Homo sapiens: one gene and its partner. The protein of the gene in region 1 purifies or fractionates together with the protein of each later gene. This does not show direct contact. Each region holds a gene or a part of one and is shown on either strand. Other genes may lie near its edges.

Evidence for each region. Proteins that work in one complex are often made in the same cells at the same time.
Region 2: the proteins of D2HGDH (region 1) and POLD1 purify together in Homo sapiens (affinity purification with mass spectrometry; one large-scale study listed by BioGRID and IntAct). This does not show direct contact.

What each region holds. Positions count from the first base shown.
Region 1 is NC_000002.12:241,744,630-241,748,129, reverse strand, and holds part of D2HGDH (D-2-hydroxyglutarate dehydrogenase, mitochondrial isoform 1 precursor), read right to left. Parts: intron 3,422-3,500; coding exon 3,253-3,421; intron 2,794-3,252; coding exon of another isoform or gene 2,375-2,793; exon of another isoform or gene 1,081-2,374; intron 1-1,080.
Region 2 is NC_000019.10:50,411,847-50,415,346, reverse strand, and holds part of POLD1 (DNA polymerase delta catalytic subunit), read right to left. Parts: intron 1,922-3,500; coding exon 1,826-1,921; intron 1,606-1,825; coding exon 1,468-1,605; intron 533-1,467; coding exon 357-532; intron 1-356. UniProt on the Homo sapiens protein: As the catalytic component of the trimeric (Pol-delta3 complex) and tetrameric DNA polymerase delta complexes (Pol-delta4 complex), plays a crucial role in high fidelity genome replication, including in lagging strand synthesis, and repair.

The DNA of each region.
Region 1 (3,500 bases):
AACAAAAAAACGCTGAAGAGCATCAAGAGCGAGGGAAGAGCCTGACCTGGGGGCTGAGTAGCACCAAGTCAACGCTGTTGGCCGACAGCCCTTGCCCCGCTAGCAGGTTTGGCCTCAAGCTTCCCAGCCTACCCAGAGTGAGGAATCCAGGAGACCCCCACAGGGCCACATCTTAGAAGTCAGGGCCAGAAGCAAGCCTGTCCCAACCAACTTGCCCCGAAGACTGCAGGGGAAATGGCTGAACAGAATGAGAAAAAAGCAGAATGGAGCCCGACGCAGGTGCTCATGCCTGTAGCCCCAGCACTTTGGGAGGCCAAGGCAGGAGAATTGTTTGAGCTCAGGAGTTCAAGACCAGCCTGGGCATCATGGGAGACCCTGTCTCTATAAAACAATTTTAAAAATGTAGCCAGGTATGGTGGTACACACCTGGTCCCAGCTACTAGGGAGGCAGGAGGATCCCTTCAGTGCAGGAGTTCAAGGCTGCAGTGAGCCACGATTGCACCACTGCACTCCAGCCTGGATGACAGAGTGAGACCTTGTCTCTCAAAAAAATACAGAAGAATAATGTAAAAAAAAAAAAAAACACTCTCCTGATAAATCATGACCATGGATCAGCCCGACACAGCCCTACACTGACTTGCTACCTGGGAGTTTCACAGAATTTCATCCTGTGAACTTGGTCACTCTCAGGCTGAACAGACCCAAAGACACCTAGCAAAAGCAAAAGCAAAAGCAAACCCTCTCTGGAGGAAGGTACCTCGTCTTTGGCATCTAGGAACCCCTACAAATAATTCTTCAAACATAATGAGCTGCACACTGCCACAGACAGCCAAGCACACAAGAAACTAAGGAGCCAGGAGCATGAACCAGCAGAAACAACAGACACTAAAAACAGACCACACAGGCTGGGTGCAGCGGCTCAGGCTCACACCTATAACCCCCGCACTTTAGGAGGCCACAGTGGGAGGATCGTTTAGCCCAGGAGTTACATGAGACCCTGTTTCTACATACAAAATTTTTTTTAATTACCTAGGCATGGTGGTGTGCACCTGTAATCCCAGCTACTCAAGAGGATGGCTTGAACCCAGGGGCTATGATCACACCACTGCACTTCAGCTTGGGCAACAGAGTGAGACCTTGTCTCTAAAAAAAACTTTCACAGACTACACAGACTTGAAAAAATGGAATTGCCTGATTATAAAACATCACAAAAAATTATTCAAAGTTTTTTTTTTTTTTTTTGAGATGGAGTCTTGCTCTGTCACCCAGGCTGGAGTGCAGTGGCATGATCTCAGCCCACTGTAACCTCTGCCTTATGGTCTGAAGCAATTCTCCTGCCTCAGCCTCCCAAGTAGCTGGGATTACAGGCGTCCACCACCATGCCCGGCTAATTTTTGTATTTTTAGTAGAGATGGGGTTTCACCTTGTTGACCAGGCTGGTCTCAAACTCCTGACCTCGTGATCCACCTGCCTCAGCCTCCCAAAGTGCTGGGATTACAGGTGTGAACTACTGTGCCCAGCCTAATTTTTGTACTTTTAGTAGAGACAGGGTTTCATCATGTTGGCCAGACTGGTCTCAAACTCCTGACCTCAAATGACCCACCCGCCTTGGCCTCCCAAAGTGCTGGGATTATAGACGTCAAACTATGTTTAAAGACACAAATGGTGAGCTTGAGAATACCTAGAATAGAAAACTATAAAAAGTAACATTGCAGATTTGACAAAAATAACAAAACTTTTAGAAATAAAAACTTTCATAATCAAAATGTAAAACTCAATGGACGGAGGGAACCACTCATGGAGGGGTTCAGCAGCAAATAAAACACAGCAGAAGAGGGCATTCGTGAACTGGAAGACAGATGAGAAGAAATCACACAGAATGCAGCACAGAGAGACACGATGATGACAATATGGAGGGGAGATTAAGAGACACAGAAGACGGACTGAGACATTCTATCCTGAATCACAGTCCCAAAAGGAGAGGAAAACACAGACAATATCTGAAGCAATAATGGCTAAGAATTTCTAGAACTGGTAAAAGATACCAAGCCACAGGTTTAAGAAATTCAGTAATTCCAAGGAGATGAAAAAGAACGTACACACACACACCACACACTGAAAACTTTAGAAGATCAGAAAGAATGATCTTTAAGTGGCCCAAGGGGGGCCAGGAGAGAGGCAGAATCCCTTCACAGCAGCAGCTACCGACAGCAAAGTTCCCAACAGCGAGGAGGCCAGAGGACAGCGGGTCAGCGTTTCCACCGGGATAAAAGAAAACAAACAACAGCCTGAAGCCATGCGCCTGTGGAAAAGAGCCTTCAAGAATGAGGATGAAATAAAGGTATTTTCAGACACGCCAGAAGTGAAGAAGTGGTCACCAGGAGACCTTTACTGCAGGAAATGAACGAGGATATGTTTGCAACATAATCCCAGACAGAAGATCGGACACAAGAGAGTGGAGGGCAGAGAAAGTGGCCATAAAATAATAATCCTGGTGAGATTGCTTAAAATACGGAACACACATCACAACAAGAAGATGTAAGTGGCTGAAGGAACAAGCATGCGGAGTCTCAGCATCCTCCAGGGCTGCCCAAGCTTCTGGCAGCTCAAGACACCGAACTGGGAGTTGGTGAGCTAGACCCGCCACCTCCCGCGCGAAGACTGCCGGGCTGTGCGACTTCTGAACTCCTGAGGAGGAAATGCTGGATAAACCCGCCCGATTCAAATGAAGCAAGAAAGGAGCCGCAGGCAGGTCCCAGGAGAACCGAAGAAGTGGCTGTGAGTGAAGCAGGCCTGTGGAGACACAGCAGCAGGCAGGTCTGCTGAGACCCCCAGTCTGGGCTGACTGGGGAAGCCCCCCATTACAGGAGGGAATTCTTTATCCCCACAGTAACTAAGAGTGGTGTCCTGAACTGATGCCAAATGACAGCATGTCCCTCAACCTTACTCCACAAGCTACTCAACCAACACGATGGGGTGAATGAGGCAACACAAGCCTGTTTTCTTATGAAATGAAGTGTCCTCTGACCAGAGACAGAGAGAGGCCTCACTCTACACCTTTACCCATGACCACCAGGAAGGCCAGGTCCTGGATTCCTGATTCCTTTGGAAGCAGAGATGTCAGGAGACACGGGAACCGACTGTCCTTGGCGGGGGGTCCCTCCATCCCCTTCCTCACACCAACAGTGGCACCATCAGAGCAGACGCTCGAGCCCAACCACCCATCTCAAGGCACACATCGAGGAAGCCCACCGAGGAAAGCCACGTTCACAGCCCTGGGCTTGGGTGGACACAAGATGGACACCGTGGTGATGATCCCCAAAGTGCCCTCCGACCCGATGAACAGCTGCTTCAGGTCATAGCCCGTGTTGTCCTTCCTCAGGGAGGTCAGGCAGTCCAGGACAGTGCCGTCGGCCAGCACCTTGGGGCAAAGAGAAGCACGTTCACCCACCTGCCAGCCTCCTGACAAGACGTCGGTCGCCTCCGGGGCCAGGTGTCAC
Region 2 (3,500 bases), on another chromosome or scaffold:
CTCTTAGGGCTGAGGCTCAGGGCAGAGAGGGGCCCTTCCTACCATAGGCTGCAGAGTGGCAGAGGCAGGGCCTGAACCCACAGCTGCCCAAGCCGACTCTTTCCACTGCTTCACCACCGAGGAAGAGCTGGGCCTGACACCTGTGTTCCCAGAGGAGGAGGGGCTGGGGGTCTGGACTCTTGTATCTAAGAGAGGAAGGGGCTGGGGGCCCTGACCCCGGGATCTGAGGAGGAGGGGGCTGGGGGCCTGGACCCGTGGGTCTGAGGGAGGAGGGGCTGGGGCCTAGACTCCTGGGTCTGAGGGAGGAGGGGTTTGGGGCCCAGCCCCCTGAGTCTGAGGGAGGAGGCCCCACACACCGGTCGATGAGCAGGCGGCGCAGTGAGGCAGTGACCAGGTTGGCCACGAGGGGGCAGTTGTCCCTGCGCACGGCCTCCAGGCCCTTGCAGTCCATGCGGTCGTGGGCGTCGGGCCGGGAGGAGAAGAGCAGGCCCGCGTAGCGCTTCTTGCTGATAAGCAGGTATGGGAAGTAGACCTGGGAGGGAGCCATGGCCAAGACCCTGAGCCTGAGGAGGCCAAGCCCCAATCTGGAGACGCCCCCCAGAAACTGAAGGTAGACAGGGTCCCAGACGCAGTTTGAGGACATGGGAGCCGTGCCCTGAGCCTGGTGGGATGGACCGAGACACTGTATGGCTGGAAGTGGCTCCTGAGGCCCCTCGGCAATGCCAGAGCCCCCACACCAGAGACCCCAATCTGAAACAGAGACTGGGATAAATCCAGATAGTCCCTAAAACATGAGATCCAGACAGGCGAGTCGATGAAGCATCCCATGAAAGAGAGGAGAAACTACGGCTGGGTGAGCCCTGAGGCAGAGACCTCCCCACTCTGCGAGGCTCCAAGTCCAAGGCCTGGCACGAGAGAGCGTTAAGCCACGGGGAAACAGTACAGTGTGAGAACTGGGCGTGGCGGCTCAGGAGGCCAAGGCGGGAGGATCGCCGGAGCCCAGGAGTTGGAGGCTGCAGTGAGCTGTGAACTCGCCACTGCACTCCAGCCTGGGCGACAGAGCGAGACCCAGACTCTTCAAAAGAAAATATGGTGCAAGGTTTCCTGGGACCAAGTGTGCCGCACTCAGAGGGCCAGGGGCAATGGTGCACAGATCTAAGGTGCACCCCCATCAGGGTCCCTGCGTGGAGGGCAGCTCCACATCTGACAGGTACTGGGAAACCTCAAAACCAGGGACACTGTGACACCTCAAAACCAGGGACAGCGACAGGGTTTTCAAAGAACAGATGCCATCCAGGGTAACAAAGCCCAAGGCCTTGGAGGCTTCCCAAACCAAGGCCCCAGCCTCAGGAGAATCTAAGCAGCAACATCCCTTCACACTGTGGCTTTTGTGAACCCAAAGAACGGGACACCCTGAGTACCCTGATGAGGGCACCTAAATGCAGAGCCCCTGACCCAGCCACGCACCTTCTCAAACTCCAGCCGGATGGGCGACGGGAAGTGACCTGACACCCAGTCCGCGGCCTCCCGCCCCAGGGCCATCGCCTCAGCCACCGAGGACACGCCGAATCGGCACATGACGGAGTCAGTGTCACCATACACCACCTGCGGGCGGTGGGGATGTGTGTATGTGAGAAGCAGGGTCCCTTCTGTCAACTACTGGTGTCGGGGGGTGGCAGGTGGCTAATGCCAACGGGACCCAAGGATGCAACAGGAGAGTGGGCAGGGTGTGACCAGGAGGCACGGGGACATGGGGGTCCGGCCCGGCTTCCATCCCCCCACCTGCCCTGGGCCCATCTCAGGGCAGCGGTGGGCAGCCCCCGACCTTGGCACTGGTGCTGTAGCCATTCTCCACTGTGTACTTAGACTCCACCAGCTGCTTGGTTTTCTCGATCATCTGACGTCCGAACCCCGTGACGCTCTGTCGGGGAGAGAATCATGCGGAGTGAAGCCCTGGGGGCCATGTGCAGTGAACGTGGGCCGGCGGGGGAGGGGTCCCGCCTCTGCCATTTCCCAGTGGCATAGGCTTATGTACAAGCCACTCTGCCCCTCCTGGGCCTCAGTTCCCAAATCTGCAAAATGGGACTATAAGGCGGCTCCTCAATGGTCAGGTGGAAAGAAGTGGGTTCCCTGGCTCAGAGTTCTGGACATGCACAAGGAAGTGACTACATCAAATGCATGCTGGAAAGACTGCGGCCTGAAGAGGCCACTGGCCCAGTGTTTCCCTCACACTGACATTCTGGGCAGCTCTCTATGGTACAGGACCACCGACATAGCCAGCCCCATCCCTGGAAGCCAGCAGTGCCACCCCCATCCCTGTACCACCAGAACTGGCCCTACCTACACATTGACAAATGCCCCCCAGAGCAGGGGGTGGCACCACCCTGACTAAGAAACCATTGAGAAACCCACTGTCTTATTTTAGAGTTAAGAAAACTAGCTGGCGTGGTGGCTTATGCCTGTACACCCAGCACTTTGGGAGGCTGAAGTGGCTGGATCACTTGAGGTCAGGAGTTCGAGATCAGCCTGGACAACATGGTGAAACACCATCTCTACTAAAAATACACACACACACACACACAAAACTAAAAAATACTTAAACAACAACACCACCACCACCACCACCACCACCAAACCTGAGGCTGGGGGTGGGGACACCAAGGAGAGATGGGTGTGATTCTTCTGTTTTTGTTTGTGTGGATCCAGTCAGGAAATCTGTCTAACTAGAGCATTTTGTCCATTTACATTTAGTGTAATTACTGATATAGCTGGGCTTACGTCTACCACTTTACTGTCTAGCTTTTACTTGTTCCACCTGTCCTATGTTCCTTTTTCTTTCCTTTGTAATCTTTTCCTGAAATGATTCAATTTTTTTTTTTTTTTAAGAGACAGGAGGCCAAGCGTGGTGACTCACACCAGTAATCCCAGCACTTTGGGAGGCCGAGGCAGGTGGATCACCTGAGGTCAGGAGTTCAAGACCAGCCTGGCCAACATGGTGAAACCCCGTCTCTACTAAAAATGCAAAAATTAGCCAGGCATGGTGGCGGGTGCCTGTAATCCCAGCTACTCAGGAGGCTGAGGCAGGAGAATCACTTGAACCCGGGAGGGAGAGGTCGCAGTGAGCCAAGATTGTGGCATTGCACTCCAGCCTGGGTGACAGAGCAAGACTCCATCTCAAAACAAACAAACAAAAACTAAAAGAGACAGGGTCTCAACTCTGTCACCCAGAATGGAGTGCAGTGATGCCATCACAGCTTACTGTAACTCAAACTGCTGGGTTCAAGCCATCTTCCCGTCTCAGCCTCCTGAGTAGCTGCAACTACAGGCATGAGCTACCACAATGCCTGGCTAGTTTTGTTTGGTTGTATTTTTTGTAGAGATGGGGTTTCACTATGTTGCCCAGGCTGGTCTTAAACCCCTGGCCTCAAGTGATCCTCCCTCCTCAGTGTCACAAAGTGTTGGGATTACAGGCGTGAACACTGTAATTCATTACTTTTTTT